Regions from separate parts of the Homo sapiens genome. Here region 1 is linked to region 2. The links come from fine-mapping of genetic effects on gene expression. A gene starts in region 2. The other region holds a variant in brackets. All regions are shown on one strand. Distances are from middle to middle.

Evidence for each region. PIP is the estimated chance that this variant, and not a neighbour inherited with it, causes the effect.
Region 1: its variant is fine-mapped to the expression of RAB30-DT in subcutaneous fat (TwinsUK, PIP 0.95).

What each region holds. Positions count from the first base shown.
Region 1 is chr11:82,789,754-82,798,159 of GRCh38, reverse strand. It overlaps LINC02734 (long intergenic non-protein coding RNA 2734), which reads right to left. Exons shown (of 3, transcript NR_183631.1): 2 at 6,465-6,571. Among named protein-coding and RNA genes, the nearest start is that of LINC02734, 12 kb to the right of the region's middle. The variant TACAC/C (reference allele first, on the strand shown) is at 4,531.
Region 2 is chr11:83,067,507-83,075,753 of GRCh38, reverse strand. It overlaps RAB30-DT (RAB30 divergent transcript), which reads right to left and starts at 3,688. Exons shown (of 3, transcript NR_038903.1): 1 at 3,608-3,688; 2 at 2,950-3,131; 3 at 2,042-2,451. It overlaps RAB30 (RAB30, member RAS oncogene family), which reads left to right and starts at 3,857. Exons shown (of 5, transcript NM_001286060.2): 1 at 3,857-4,063. LINC02951 (long intergenic non-protein coding RNA 2951) reads left to right here. Exons shown (of 3, transcript NR_186233.1): 3 at 3,058-3,352. RefSeq lists enhancers at 3,415-3,904, 5,668-5,897, 5,918-5,967.

The sequences.
Region 1 (8,406 bases), 280 kb after region 2:
GCATCAGCCAGCCTCGGGACCAGGCATGTGGCAGATGTTCAATGCTGAGTTACGACTAATATTATGAAGGTAAACCTCAGTGCAGACACCATCTATTCTAGGAATCCTCTGTAGCCTATTTTTGCTGATATTGCCTCCTCTTTGTTGCAAACGAACCTGGAACAGTCCTCTATTATCACACTTCTCACACTGACTTTGATCAAGTCAGTTTTCTATGTGGAGTGGACTATATGGATTTTGCATATATGTATCTTCTGGCAGGAGTGGGAAGCTGGACTGCTGAGCTGGCTCTGGAGGGATGCTCCCAGAGTACCCAGGACTGAGGCAGTTAATTTGCCCCACTGGTGAGGAGGAAATTTCTTGTAAAAGCTAGCTCCCCTCAGAACAAAGTGGCCTTTTATTTTTTAGCTTTGGAAAGGAGCCTAGCTGTCCATGGAAACAAAGAGAGGAGAGAATCACTGAACCAGTCTTGCACATAAAAAACCTACCATGCCTGTCTTTGAAGTCTCCTTTATGTCATTTAGAAAACTTTGGATTATAGGAGTGTTTTTTCCTCCTTTTTTTCCTCAGTTCCTCACCCACCCCAATTTTTTTTTTTCAGAGAAAAGAGAGAACTGGGTATAAGAGAACCTTTCTTTGAAACAGGGCAGAAGTCATTAATTAAGGTTCCCATTCATTCCTGCTGACACTTGCTCATCAATCAGATTTCCTCTTAGCATTCTGATGACCTTGCTGACCTTGGTCCTCCATGCTGTCTGCTAGACAGAATTGAGACTCAGACCACACACACCAGAACTGAGGGAATGGGCTCTGACTCTCGGCTTCCTGAGATGGAGGAGAAAGGGTCTGGGGACAAAGCTGGCTGGTCCGGAGCTCTTCTGGCTGAGGTGAAGGTGAATAAAGAAGACATTTTCTTTGCGGAAGCAAGTGTTGCTTACTTCACACAAGCAGTGATCTATAGCTGCCCTTCTCTTTTTCCCCAGAACCCAGGGCCAGCCATGGAGCTTGGAGCCCAGCCAGCTGAGCCCAGGAAACAAGGCTAGCAATTTCTCTCTGCTAACTCAGCACTGCTGAAAGAAGTTAACAGCTCTAGTCTTCTCTCAGAAAAGTACAGGAAACTGTTCTGGAGATGGGGGTGGCATCTGGGACTAGTCAGCCTAAGGTGTGGGACTTTTATTTCATTACTTGTGCCTTTATTCATTCATTAAATATACATTTACCTGGCAGCCACTGTGTATACTAGGCAAATTTTATGTTATGTATAGTTTATCACAATTTAAAAAAAGAATTAAAAAATTATGTGTGTAGATAAACTTGGAAACACAAAAAACACTTGCTACATTACTGGGGGTAGTAAGGTTGTGGGTAAATTTCTTCTACATGTCTGGTGCTAGAAAGTATTTGCAAAGCATAAAAACCTTAAAGAAAAAAATGGACAAAAAACTAAAATAGATTTTTCTAGAAAAAACCTATATACACAAATGGTTAACAAATGCATGAAAAGATATTCAATATCATTAGCCATTAGGAAAATGCAAATCAAAATCATATGATACTACTTCAAACACATAAGATGGCTATGATAACAAAATGACAAAAAGTGGAAAATAGCATATGCTAGCAAAGGTGGGGGAAAATCAAAACTTTCATACATGACTGGTGAGAATATATTAATAAGATGGTGCAACTGCTTTGGAATTACCGAAAAGGAGAAGAGATTTTCTGGAATGATGCCTTTTTAACTAAGGGAGTGGGGACGGCATCTCATATACAAGTGGACAGGTTGGCCTGAAGTAGGAGTAAAGACAATCCATTCACAGTAACGAGAAGGAAGGAGGCGAATGTGGGCACAGACAAATGCATTAGGTCAAATGTAGTGATGCAACTTCTGAAAGTTCTATGTGACTGTTGCTATTTCCTCAGTGAAGAAAGTGGAAGAGTGAATGGATCTGGAAGATGATTCCTGAGCAGTTACAAGGGCCTGCTTGAGCTTAAAGTAATGGACTTAAAATCAGACTGGTCAGCATGGTTGTGTGTTGATCTTCAGCCAGGTTCAGCTGCTCAGGTGTAGGCTGGGAGTGAAGAGGTGAATCTCACTGAGGTTGGAGCTTTTCAAGAAGAGTATAATAAAGCAAGAAAGGGAAAATATAGTTGAAGAGAGAAATTATGATGATGAGAATATGCTCTAAGCTAGATATGGAAGGGAGGGGAGTGAAGCCTCCACAGGTACTGATAGTTGGGGCGAGGGGGTGGTGAAAAGGAGTGGTATCTGTAGATTGGAGGTCTCTGTGGGGTCAAAAACTTGCTGGAATTGGGACACTCAAACTGGAAAGATAAGAGGGGGGATGATCAGAGAGTGGGTTGCTTGAAACTCAAATTAGGTAAAATTTGCAAGTATTGGGAATAATAAGGTGCAGTACATGACCATGGGAATGATGGCTAGACGAGGGTGTGAGACAATGGAGGAGATGAGGTCAATGAATACATGAGCCAGGATACAGGGAGGAAGAGCTGCATGATTATTTAAATTATGTCTCAGTGAAATTATTGATTTAAACTAAATGAGAGCAAAAGTGAGATATAATCTTCAAGAAATGAGGGAGCATGACTTAGAGGTCAGTAGATGACAGCAATGAAGTGGGAATAGGGGATTGTATAGCCTGGTGATGTGATTAAAAGCAGAGTGTTAAGGCAGAGGGGTGAAGTGGTCAACAAGCATCAAGATGGGCAAGGAAAACTTTTACCCCCACCAGGGATCTGTGTGGTACAAGGAGTTTGGAGATAAAACAGCAACCACTTGAGAGGGTTTCTGGAGAAGCAATGTCCTCCTGGGAGAGTCAGATGTCTGTTAGACCAAGAAGGCCAAGGGAGAGTACAAGATTGAAGATGTATGGGATTTGCTGATGACTGGCTCTGATTTCCAGGGGGATATAGCGGAAGCGTTTCCTCAGACATCTCCCCAGGTAGATGGCATCAGAAAAGTGAATATAGCAAGCCAAATGGGGATAAGAGCCCAGAGGACAAGGAAGCTCCACACTCTTTTTGGTGTCTGACTTAAGTAGATGTAAACGGCATATGAGGTAACCCTGATGGTCTCCAGGCAGGAGGGGTGTAGGCTGTGAGTGCTGGAGGGACAGGGAGGAGAGAGAGTGAGGGTCCTGTCAGGGGCACAGAACTCAAAAGAGGGGTGGTCTTTTCTGGATCAACCCAAACTCTGAGGCACTCTTCTTACTTATATGGCACAAGGTGCTCTGAGGCTTTCTCCTGACTCGATTGGTGGATGTTTCTGGTGAAACTGGGCTGCAGTTAGTTGTTTAAAACCATCTGTTGACATTTATTCCAGACCTGCTTTGGCTCCCCTTATGAACCAGGATGTTGGAAAGTAGCCTGGCAGGCTCACTCCTAAATTTGGCCTTTAAAATGGTGAATAACTCAGTTTGGTTGAAGATAATCACAGGATTACTAATAGATCATTCGTGGCAGGATGTAAGTCAGTCAGGATATCCTTGATTCTGGGATGTCTGGCAAAGCGCTGGGAGTAAGAGCTCATTGAATCCTAGTGTGCTCTTTGGGCCAGGTCTGCTAGTGGTGTATACTATACACCTTTCTAAAAGTGTATTGGGCATCATACTTTTTGGACTATTCAGATTATTTTTAATATATTATAAATCTTGCTGCTTTGTAGCTCTTCACTCAATGACTCAATGTCATCATCTGTCACTGCAAGAGTAGATACCACCATAGCAAAATGTCCATTACTCAGAATTCAGCTTCACCCCTGAATTCTTCCATGAATTTCTAGTAAAACAACGGTTTTGAGATCAGACATTTTTGACAGAAAAGATTGATTTTTTTCCTTTTTTATTTTTTTTTTGAGATGGTGTTATTGCTCTGTTGCCAATGCTGGTCTCAAAGTCCCATATTCAAGCAGTCTTCCTGCCTCAGCCTACCAAGTAGCGACAGGGATGCACCATTTTGCCCGGCCAGGATTGATTTTTTAAGTCTTAAGCTATCTTTACATACCAAAAGCATTGCTTGAATTTCTATTTATTTATTTTTGAATTTTTCAACAAGCTCATTTAAATGTAGCTAGTGATTTTTAGTTTTTGTTTTGTTCTGTTTTGTTTTGTTTTGTTTTTTTTTGTTTTGTTTTGAGACAGGATCTAGCTCTGTCACCCAGGCTGGAGTGCAGTGATGCAATCACAGCTCCCTGCAGGCTTGACCTCCTGGGCTCAAGAGATCCTCCTATCTCAGCCTCCCGAGTAGTTGGGACTACAGGCATGTGCTACCACGCACAGCTAATTTTTATTTTTTGTGGAGACAGGGTCTCACTATGTTGCCCTGGCTGGTCTGGAACTCCTGGGCTCAAGCAATCCTCCTGCCTTGGCTTCCCAAAGTGGTGGGATTACAGGCATGAGTCACTGCACTGGCCTGGACTTTTTGATTACAATCTATGGTAACAAATATATTTTTTGTTATCACTCAACACACACACACACACACACACACACACACACACACACACACACA[TACAC/C]ACATTCATGTAAAATTGTAATAAAAATTTCAGATGCCCTCTGATTGACACTTTTTATTGTGTTTTAGATTTTATTTCTAAAAATCTGGTCTTGGCCTGCTAAATTGATTTTATGACACATTAGTAAAGTATAATTTTAAAAATTACTATAAACCATAATACAAGGAATGCTCAGGGTACATAGGAAAAGGCTCTGACTCATGAGAAATAACTAGAGAAATCCCACCTCTTCTGGCATTGTTAATCTTAGAAGGAGGAGAGAGAGCATGGTAGGGTAAGACAGACGAACACCAGCGTCCTCATTTTCCCCTCTTTTTAGGGTATAACTTTGAGGTGTGTGTGTATATGTGTTTGTGTGAGGGATGTGTGTGTGTGTGTGTTTATGTGTGTGCACCATGGAAGTCTTCAGAGAGGCATAAGACAACTGAAGGCATTAGAAATACTGGCCTGGGTCCAGGGCTTAGGGACGCAGCAAGCCTCTAGAAGAAGTTGTGCATTCTGGTTAGCACTGAGCCTAAGCTGAGGCAGAAGCTGTACAGTGCAGCAGTGGCTGACAAGTGGTCTAGATAGATAGTGTAAGATAGTACTGCTGATTGCCCTGGTCTGTGCAGGACGCACAGGGAATTCGAAAGTTTCTGCTTGGTTTGGTGATGGGGCTCAGATGTGCCAAGGAGATTAGTGGACTAGCCGAGCTGGGCTTGAGATAAAGAAAAGATCACATAGAGGCCAGGTGCAGTGGCACACACCTGTAACCCCAGCACTTTGGGAGGCAGAGGCAAGTGGATCACTTGAGGCTAGGAGTTCAAGACTAGCCTGGCCAACATGGCAAAACCCTGTCTCTACTAAAAATACAAACATTAGCCAGGCATGGTGGCACATGCCTATAATCCCAGCTACTCGGGTGGCTGAGGCAGGAGTACCACTTGAACCCGGGAGGCAGAGGCTGCAGTGAGCTGAGACTGCGCCACTGCACTCCAGTCTGGGAGACAGAGCAAGATGCTGTCTCAAAAAAAAAAAAAAAAAAGAAGGAAATAAAGATCACATAGGAGTTTTGCAACCCAGCCAAATGACTAGTACTAAGAATTTCAAAAGCAGTAGATACAGTATGATAACCGTAAAAGATATGATGGAATCAGCAACACCTCATCGTGTCCCAGTCTAGAGGCCAAATGAGAGTACAATATAAGGAACTTTCTGGAGAAATGTGAGGACCCTGCTCTTCAACTGCGGCAAGTCCAGGTAAGCTCCTCCTCACTGACCCAAATGCCATTTCTAGGTGGATCAGAGGAAGGGAGAGAAAGTCAAAAGAGCATTGACCCCAAAGACACCAACATACACAAAAGAGACTGTTAAACATGAAGAGAAAGAGATACCATGAATTGAAAAATTTGTCTTCTCTCTCCTGTAAGTTTTGAGGATAATTGGAGCAATTAAAGAAAATATGAAATAGTAGTTTGTTAAATTGCACCCTCGTTACAGGAGTACTAATTTCAAGATATTTTGTCTTAGTGACCTGGACAAGCATAATCATGCTTATCTCCACCTACCAACTGGGAAGTTTAGACAGCTTACCAATCACCCCAACTCAGAAGGTATGTGCCGTTGGCCTGATATCACCGATAAGAGTGCACAAACAAAAACATAAGGTAATGTGCCCAAGGCCCTGTAGCTGGTAATTGCTTATCTGCCTTCAGGCCTATGTGATTTCCTCTCCACCTTGCAGTCTTCTTCGGTGATCTAATTAGGCTATTGTCCCAGGCAACATGACAATTGGCAGTCACTGATTCCTTTGCTTTGTCCTAGGTCATACATAGGACAAAACAGAAAACAGGCAGATGATAATTTGATGAATACACTCAAAACCAGACTCTAGAGAGCCTTTAGATGCTCTTAATACTCACTTATGTTTAGTGCTTTATAGTTCACAAACCTTGTCACATTTCTTAGTTGACCTTTATGAAAATCTTGAAGCAGATGTTCCTATTATTCTCTCTCCACAGAAGAAGCAGCCAGGTCTTAGGAGGCCCAGGTAAGTTTCTGAAAGGCACAGTGAAGGAGTGGAACAGAAACCCTCAGCCAGATCATTTTACTCCTAGAGAAACGCACATCCACAGACTCTGCTGCCCTATTTAGGTCAAGGACAGGAAGATACTGGCAAAATGTTCTGTTATGTTACTATCTTCTTCTCTGCAAGTGGGCTACAGGCCCCTTGGCTCTCCCTCACATTCCCCTTCTTGTCCTCTGACTGGTGCTTATCTTAGTGTGTCTGGCTGTGATGTTCAGGACAAGTGGAGTCTGAATTTTTGACAGGTGATAAATGGCTATGGTTTCATTTCCCTCCCTCCAGTCTGAGGGTTGGCAAGCACTGCAGCTGGGAAGCAGCTGCCCAGAGCTGGGGTGTGGTGGGAGAGGGGCCTCCGGAGGATGCCTGGCTACAGGCTGATGCGGTTACACAGGCTCCTGCCTCCACAGCCTTTGAAAGAAGGTCTTGCGTGAACTCAGACCTGTCTTACCATCTGGTTAGGTATATTTTCCTCTCTGGTTTTGAGGAGTCAAGAGGTAGTTAAGGGATAAAGGACAAATGTTTCCCTGGTGACTAGAGACCTATCTTGGAGGCCTGAATAAACTGGCTTCCACATAAATGAAAAAACAAAAAGCTCTAAATGAATTGTAAACAGAAGAACTGATGTGTCTCTTATCAGTCTGCTGCCTGTAGACTTTGGCTGAGAGATAATCACCATGGTTAGTGAGGATCCTGGAAGCCAGTTATCATTCATTCCTAACTGTGTTCTCCCGCCATTGTTTTGGCATAATAAAACCCTAAAGAATATAAAATCCCCAGTGCTCTGCAGCATCGTGGCTTCTCTTTATGAACCATAACCTCCTCATCCTTTTCCCAGTTCTCCCCATCTGCTTGCAACCCCACGCCTACCAAGTGCAAGGGACAAGGAGGGGGCTGAGCAGGTGGCATTCTGGACCTCACACCTTCACTTCCATCAGAAGAGCTCTGCTCTCATCTGCTTTATGAAATGACCTACTGGGCACCATTTACTCCTAAGGTTTCCTCTGTGGCAAGGTGAAAACTGCCTGCTGTCAGATGTTCACCATCTTTAGCTACAACAGAAAGGGTTGGGGAAGAGAGTGAGGTGGGTGGATTCAGGCTTCCTGCTCTCCACTTACTGTATAAGTAGGCACAAATAATTGTTGGTGCTTACCATATGTTTTTCCCTCCAACTGTGACACAAGAAGGAAGGTGAGGAAGCCCTGGCACATCCTGTGTGTTCCAGTGTCTGAAACGTAACTAGCTGCCTTTTCTTGATCAGCCTAGTGTCTCATGTCCTCTTGCCTCAGCCTCCTGAGTAGATGGGACTACAGGCTTGCACCACTACACCTGGCTAGCATTTTATTATTTGCAGACACAGAGTCTAGCGATGTTGCCCAGGCTGGTCTTGAACTCCCGGTCTCAAGTGATCCTTTTGCCTCTGCCCCACAAAATGGTGGTATTATAGGCATGAGCCACCATGCCTGGCCCCTTGCTAGATCTTGATGGGCAAATTCTAGGAAGTTTCCTGCCTGAATTCTTGTTAGGAGGAGATAAACAGGAATGTGAACACTTAAGGAAAGCCCAGAGAAAATAGTAAAATCTCTATTAGGATTGAGAGATTGGGCTATACATAGAATTATTAGCAGGCACTGGGCCAAGTGCTGGAGCCCAGAGGTGATCAAGACCCAGTCTTTGCCTTCATGGTGCTCACAGGCCAGGTGCTCTTCATGGAAGAGAAGGCAACTTCCAAAGCAAATAGTTCCAATACAGTTTGCTCAGTGTTGTAATAGATCGCATATCAAAATCCATAGGAAGGAGAGAGTAATTG
Region 2 (8,247 bases):
ACTTAGGGCAAGAAAATTTTTATTTTCAGAAAATTCTAAACAATATATTGTCTCTGGATACTTCAGCTTTTAAGTTTCTGCATAACTATCATAATTTTACCACAGCGTTGAGCTCTTACTAGGTGTCTCTTAACATTAGACTTTCTTAATATTAGGCTAAACCCTCATTCTAAGAAATATACAGGTTAGTCAGGATATCATGGTTGGTCCCTTTTTTTTTTTTTTTTTTAAACGGGAGTTTTGCTGTTATTGCCCGGGCTAGAGTGCATTAGCACAATCTCGGATCACTGCAACCTCCGCCTTCCAGTTTCAAGCGATTCTCCTGCCTCAGCCTCCCAAGTCGCTGGGATTACAGGCACCCGCCACCACACTCAGTTAATTTTTTGTATGTTTAGTAGAGACGGGGTTTCACCATGTTGGTCAGGCTGGTCTTGAACTGCTGACCTCGTGATCCACCCACCTCGGCCCCAAAGTGCTGGGATTACAGGCGTGAGCCACCGTGCTTGGCCCGGTTGGTCCTCTTAAAGCTAAAACTGATCTCATCTCCTCTCACTCCCCTCTCCCTCCCACAATTGCCATGTGTAAACCGTTCACCAGGTAAATTCCTTATCTACACATTTTCAGAATTCATTCATGGGTATAATTAGCAATAAACCTAAAATCTTTCTCAAAGCTTTTGTTATTGTGTGACTTACTGCAAAAATACAAACACAGGATGTAGAGGACTACTCCACCCAACTCTTGTAGACTCACCTATAGTTTTAAAAACACAATACTTGGTTCTAACCCTGGAGATTTCAACAGGGATGGGAAGGTAACAGCCATATACTTTTAGAGCTGTATAGGTTATCCTGACACCTCTACTGAAAAAAACCCTTGCTCTAACAGCAATTGGCTTCATACTCTTAAATGAGCTACCTATAATTTTAATACAAATCCATGTCCTAATTCTCTTTATTATTTTTTTGAGATAGGGTCTTGCTGTTGCCCAGGCTGGAGTACAGTGGCTCAATCTCTGCTCACTGCCACCTCCACCTCCCCAGTTCAAGCGATTCTCCTGCCTCAGCCACCCTAGTAGCTGGTATTACAGGCGCACGCCACCACACCTGGCTAACTTTTCTATTTCTTGGAGATGGGGTTTCGCCATGTTGGCCAGGCTGGTCTTGAACTCCTGGCCCCAAGTGATGTGCCCATCTCGGCCTCCCAAAGTGCTAGGATTACAGGTGTCAGCCACTGTGCCTGGCCCTAATTCTTTTTTGAGAGATGAAAAGCTTTACCTCCTCTAGATATTCCTAATTCCACTTTAACAATATTTTCCTAAGTTGTGGTGTTTCTATGGGACACTGTTATTTTTTCAGAAGCTGGCCTCCCCAACTCCTCAAATATCAATTTTATAAATAAAATTTATAATGAGTGCAGGATTTTTTCATCTTTATGGTCAGATGTCCATTAGATACAAGGATAGAAAAACTTCAAACTACCCAAACACATGACAAATTATAGAAATCACTGTATTCTAGAGGTATCACTTCTCAAACACAAGCTTTCTTTCTTTTTTAAAAACAGACATAGTCTCACTGTTGTCCAGATTGGAGTACAGTGACACAATCATAGCTCACTGCAGCCTCAAACTAATGGGATCAAGTGATCCTCCTGCCTCAGCCTCCCAAGTAGCTAAGCCTACTGGCATGCACTACTATGCCCAGCTCACACAGAAGGTTTCTGAGTAATCTGTTGCTCTTTTTCCCTACAATTTGTCTTCCATATAACTCAAACTGACAAGGCTATGGCTTACATAAAGAAATATATTATAAATCAACAACACTCATGATAAGTTTACATAAGACATGAGAATACACCTGAATCACCAACCGGGAAAAATGATTGAAGAGCTTGAAATTAAGCCTAAGTGTAAGTCTCTGTTAAGCTTACAACATTACAATAGTTAAATCGAAGGTTAGAAAGAAAATGGTAGACATTGCTCCTTTTCCTGTACTTACCACCATTACTTAGAGAAGTTTCTGAATAACAACAACTTTGAGCCTTTTTCATTGTTGTATTCATGGATGACACCAACACATACTACTTCTGCTTAAAAATCAAACTCATTCATCTTGACTTGTTCCCAGAAACATGACACAGAAGATCATTTTTTGAAAAAGTATTTTTGTAATTACCATCTGCATACACCTGAGAGACTGTTTCTAACATGTTTTGGTCATTTTTAATCATTCTATCTGCCTTTCTTTGTTATAAGGATCTATTTTTAATTTTATTCACTCCTAACATAGAGGGGAAGTGCATACCTTCAATGACGCAAAGTAACTAGTTAATGTTGTTTCAGAATAATATGCAAAAGGGAAGGGAGGAAACAGCACAAAGTATATCATATTTTTACACATCAGACACCTTCAGGAAGAAAGGACATTTCTCATCTTAGTGTGACAGACTCTGAAAAAGAACACACAGCACTGTTTCAGTGACACAAGAAAAAAAGTACAGTTCATTTTGAGATACTGTGCAAAATCACTCAAAAGACAATTAACTTTGGTTTCAGTCACTTAGTTAAAAAAAAAATTTATCCATGACCGATGTTACTCTGGAATCTATTGCCAGACGTCAGAAGGCCTATCATCAATAATATCCCACCCCTCCCGCCTTTTCTGAGACACGGGCTTGCTGTCGCCCAGGCTGGAGCACAGTGGTAGGATCGAGGCTCACTGCAGCCTCAACATCCCGGGCTCAAGCGATCCTCCCACCTCAGCCTCTAGTGTAGCTGCAACTACAGGGGTACACCACCATGCCCAGCTAATTTTTTTGTTTAATGTTTTTGTAGAGACGGTACGGGGTCTCCGCATGTTGCCCAGGCTGGGGTTGAACTCCTAGAATCACGCTATCTCCCCGCGTCTGCCCCCAAAGTGCTGGGATTAAAGGCGTGAGCGACCGCACCTGGCCAATATCCCCTTTGAACATCTGCTTTCGCTGGTTGGTAAAAAAGTGTCATTTTAAATTTAGTGTTACTCCTTCAGGCTATTCCCTCTCTCTTCTTACTTGCAGGGCCAAAGCAACGTCTCTTTCCACCTTGGTCACCTTCCAACAACGATTTCTTCGGACGCCTTTGTTAATCATTCCTGTATGAAAAATCAGTGAATCTGAAGCTTTGGGGAGAGTGAAAGGGGGTTGGAAAACAAACGGCAAAACAAAAATGCATTTCGGAGGACTACCCCAACTCTGTGGGTGGAAGTGGGCTTCTCCGAATAAAGGCGAGGGTCGCCGCCTCGGGTCCTCGCACCTCAACAAAAGACACCAACTCTCTCAACTGTACTGTTAACAGATCTAAATGATACTCCAAGCCCAAAAGTAAACCGACTCTCTCAATCTCTTAGCTAAAAAATGGAGAAGGAAGCGTAGGGCCCCATGCAACCCCTTCAGGAGCTGAGACCGAGGCTCACTGGGCCTCTGGATGCCGCTTCCAGTCGGTCCCGCCCTACATCAGTCCCCAGCATGGCCTCCACCCTCTGGTTCCCAGGTTCGTGCCCGCGGCTATCCGACCAGATCGTCCTCCACCTCACCGTCCCCACTGAACCACCACTTGACTCCTGCGCACCCCTAAAACCTCTGCCCGGCTCCGCGGAATCGTCCCAGTACTCCTAACATGGCGGCCGAGTCCCCTTTGCTCCTTCACTCTGGGCGCGTCCCACTTGGAGCATTTTGGGCATTGTAGTTTCGGGGATTGCCTGGGTATCCCTTCAGGACGTAAGAAGACTACAGTTCCCAGAAAGCACCGCTCCCGAGCATGGCTATTGGGGACGTTTGGACAGAGGGATGATGTCATTGCAAAAGCCCCACTGCATTCATTGTGCTACGGTCTCTCCACCCCCTGCTGCTGCTGGGCTTGCGATTGCCGCTCGCTCCAGCTGAGCTAAGTGTAGCAGCAGCACCAGGGCAGGGACTGACTCCAGCCCTTGGACTCAGGACATCGCAGACCTTCCCTTGCGTGCGTGACTCATTCGCACATCCATTTCTGTTTATGCCTGGGGTGGGGAGAAAAATCCCAAACCAGGTGAGTTGAAGTGATTTATTCAAATGCTTCTACCAAGTTATTCCTCCCGCTTAGTTCTCAAGGCTTTCTTTTGGGAAGCTGTGAGCGGTGGGGAGGTGGGGGGGATTGGGGAGAGGCTTGCAGGCACAGCTAAGGGGAAAAGCTCTGTGCCATTTGGGTCACTGCAAAGAACAACTCCAGCAACCTTCCCCCGCCAGAGGACGGGTGCCTGCCAATTCCCTAGTCGCAACTCCTCTCAACCTTTTTGAGGCGGAGAGAGGGGGCTGGGCTGGGAAGGATGTTGGGGAGTGCTCTTGGAAAATCTGAGGAAGGCAGAGGTGGGGGACTGCAGTCCTGTCACACACGGCCCGAGAGCTGAGGTTTGAGTGGGAAGGGGTGATGCGTGGGGAGAAATGGAGACAGTGAATTAATGTGGTCGCACTACTTTAGAACATTTGAATGTCGCTTGGACGAGCACTAGTTATTAATTTTTAAGATGAACGTGCTTAAGTTTTGTAGGGCTTTATTTTATGTGTGTATGTCTATGTGGTTTGTCTCGCCTTTTCTGCTGATTTGAGGTGACAGTGTCCTTTAATGGTGCACTCCGTGCCAGTCAGAAACATTTCACGTGTCTGGCGAAGGTTCTTTCAGGCTGCTGGAAGCAGCGTTTTTGTTAAATGTTTTCCGTTCTCCGACTGCTGGATTCAAGATTGTTTGGAAGTGGAGCCGACAGATTTGTGCTTGTGTGTTTTAAATTACATTGCATAGGCTCTTTGCCACTGACAATGGTACCATAATGAGCTGCTGTTTCCTGAGGCATAGTCACTACTCACAAATAACGGTTTGAAGAGATCGATTAGGGAAGAGGGGTTCATTTTAACACATTAGAGAAAGGGAAAGTTAGAAGCGCTGTTAACCTTCATTTGCCATTACTGAAAGGTGCCCATGGAAGAGTGATTTTGGTTGTTTTGTTATTGTTGTTTTTTTAAACGAACTGACATTTAACAGGAGAGAAAGCATTCTGACTTACATGATGCTCTTGTAAGAGTTATAGGGATAATTAGGGCAATAGATATGTTACTTTGAGATAAACAGCTGGCTGGCTCCACAACAGATGGGGCCAGTCTTGGCTGAGAGATCTACACCCTTGGAAATGAATGGGCCTGGGGTCAACCACACCCCCTCTTGGAATGTCAAAAGAAGGAGAAATGCCAGAGTATTTGCTTAACTCTAGAATGCTAAACCTTTTCCTAGCTGAGTCAGACATGGGCGAAATTCTTTACTGGCTGTCTTCTGCTGCTAAGCCAATTTTGTTCATTTTAAATTCAGATCCTTAGGTCTCCAAAGTTGTAGCTGTGTGATATTTCATTAAATGCTGCTTGATGCTGAATGCAAAGGACAGTCCATTGTATGGGCTTTGTAGTAGAGTGATTTATTGGGATGCCAATGAGCAGCTTTTGGATTTGGGAAAAGATCAACAGTTAGCCTTTGCCTCTGCGTCTCTCTGTTGATGACGCTCTGCTCTTCTGGACACCCTACCCTTCTCTCCTGTACTTTCATTTCTTCCCCCCACCCCACCCCATCCCACCCACATCTCTTGAAATTCTGTTTATTTCTCTATCTCTCCATTTGCAGTTTACATTTTTCCTTTCTGTTTCAAAACCCCTCCTTTATCACCAGCATATCACATCTCTTTCTCTTCAATCTTAGAACACACTCCCTGGTCCTCCACTTCAACTAGGAACTCCTGGGTGGATGTAGACTATGTGAATATTTTTGCAGAATCCTCTTTGAAGAGAATTTCTTTGCCTTTTCTTTTTCTTGCAGTCTGTGCTTGGCAGGATGAGCAGCAATGAGCCTGACCCCTGGTCTGGTTTGTAGTTCCTGTGACAGACATAATTTAGCCCCAGCAGCATGTGAACAATGAAATGCTGCAGTTGGGCTCATGCCACTTTTCCTTTCACTGGCACCTGCCTATGGATTAGCAAGGTTTTTAAATGCTCTACATGAAATGTTCTCATAATTCCCAAGGAATAAGTAGTCTTCAAGTGGCTTGCCTTATACAATACATTTTTTTTTTCCTTATCCTTGCTGCAGCTGGTGGTGGGAAGGCTGATCTTTCCCCCCTCTTTCTTCCTGTTCCCTGTGGATTGCTGAGTAGCAATCCAGGTGGCCAAACTGCCCATTTGGTTTTTTGAAGATACTTGGAGGACAACAGTTCCCCACCCACCCTGGTTGTTTCTTCTCCTCTGTGCAGGAAAGAAGTTTGTTATTTTATTCTCTTCTCTTAACGGGAAGAGTGTGATAGTGGCTATATTTGTTTATGTAACAGCAGTGCTCCTCTAGGTGTGGAAAGTCTAACTGCTATCCATCTGGAGGCAACTAGTGTAACAGGCAGATTCAGAAGCTGTCCTCTTAGACCTTTTATGCACCATCTTCTCATTCCTAATTTTCTTCTTCTGAAATACTTCCTTACCCACCAAAGTTTCTTTTATTGTCCTAGGGAGGAGAAATGGGCTGAATGTAGTGTTAGATTTGGCCTCATCACTGCTGTCTCTGGGACCTTAAATAACTATTCATTTCTTTCTGCTTCGGTTTACTTATTTGCAAAGGGATAATGATCCTTGCTCTTTGGTTTACTGATGTTATAGCCCTCTATAATCTGGCCCCAACCTATAATTCTGACAATTTATATTGATTGAGCAGCTACCATGTACTAAGCACTGTGGATACATCAGTGAAAACAAATGCTTTCCCTGACTTCATGGAGCTTATATTCTAATAGGGGATATACTTAATAAATAATTGCAAGTGTGATGAATGCCATTTCCAAAAGGGTTGGGTAGGAGTGCCTGACATGGTACTTTCCCCTTGTCTAGGGTTATCAGGAAAGGTTTCCTATAGGAAGTGACACTTCAAGAGACTTGGAGGGTAAACGGAAGTAGTAATTCAGGATGGCAGTGGGAGATGCTTATAGTGGGACAAAGGTTTCTGGCAGAGGGAACTTCATGTTCAAAGTTCAAAGGGAAGAGTGGTGAACCTGAGGATTTGAAAGGAAGTTAGAGACAGAGCAAGAGGAGAAAGACTAGAATGAAGAATGAGGCTGGAGAGGTGGGCAGAGGCTAGAGAGTAGGCAGTTCTTTGAGCTACAGGTGTATTTTGGTCTTTATCCTAAGGCTAATGAGAACCTAGCCTGGCTTTAAAAAACTAGATGAATGGCATATGTAGGATGATATTAAAATATTATCCTGGCTGTTAAGTAGAGGAGATTGAAGGAAAGACTTGGTCAGAGTGAATGTGTAGAGACCAAGTAGCAAATAATTTTTGTCGTCTGTATGAGGGATGATGGTGCTTAGATCTAGGGTGGTGACAGAGGGTTTAGAGAGACACTAAGTTTTTTGTTTTTTTTTTTTGAGACAGAGTTTTGCTCTTGTTGCCCTTGCTGGAGTACAATGGCGCAATCTCGGCTCATTGCAACCTCCGCCTCCCAGGTTCAAGCAGTTCTCCTGCCTCAGCCTCCCTATTGTCTGGGATTACAGGTGCCCGCCACCATGCTCAGCTAACGTTTGTATTTTTTTTTTTTTTTTTGAGACAGAGTCTCACTCTGTCGCCCAGGCTGAAGTGCAGTGGCATGATCACAGCTCACTGCAGCCTCCATCTCTGGATTCAAGCGATTCTCCTGCCTCAGCCTCCCAAGTAGTTGAGATTACAGGCACCCACCACTCCCAGCTAATTTTTATATATTTAGTAGAGATAGGGTCTCACCATGCTGGCCAGGCTGATCTCTCAAACTCCTGACCTCAAATGGTCCACCCGCCTCAGCCTCCCAAAGTGCTGGGACTACAGGCGTGAGCCACCGCACCTGGCAACTTTTGTATTTTTAGTAGAGATGGGGTTTCACCATGTTGGCCAGGCTGGTCTCGAACTCCTGACCTCAGGTGATCCACCTGCCTCTGCCTCCCAAAGTTCTGGGATTACAAGCATGAGCCACCATGCCCGGCCGACACTAACTTTGAAAATTGTAATTGATAAGATTTGTTGATTGATTGGATGGGGGGATAGGGAGAAAAGGGAGTCATGAAATGACTTGAGTTTTTTTCTTGAGCAACTGGGGATGACGTTTTCAGAGAAAGAGAACACTGAATGGGAACCAGGTCTTTTTGTTTTCCGAAGGGAGGACCTTTGGACATGCTGAGTTTGAGGTT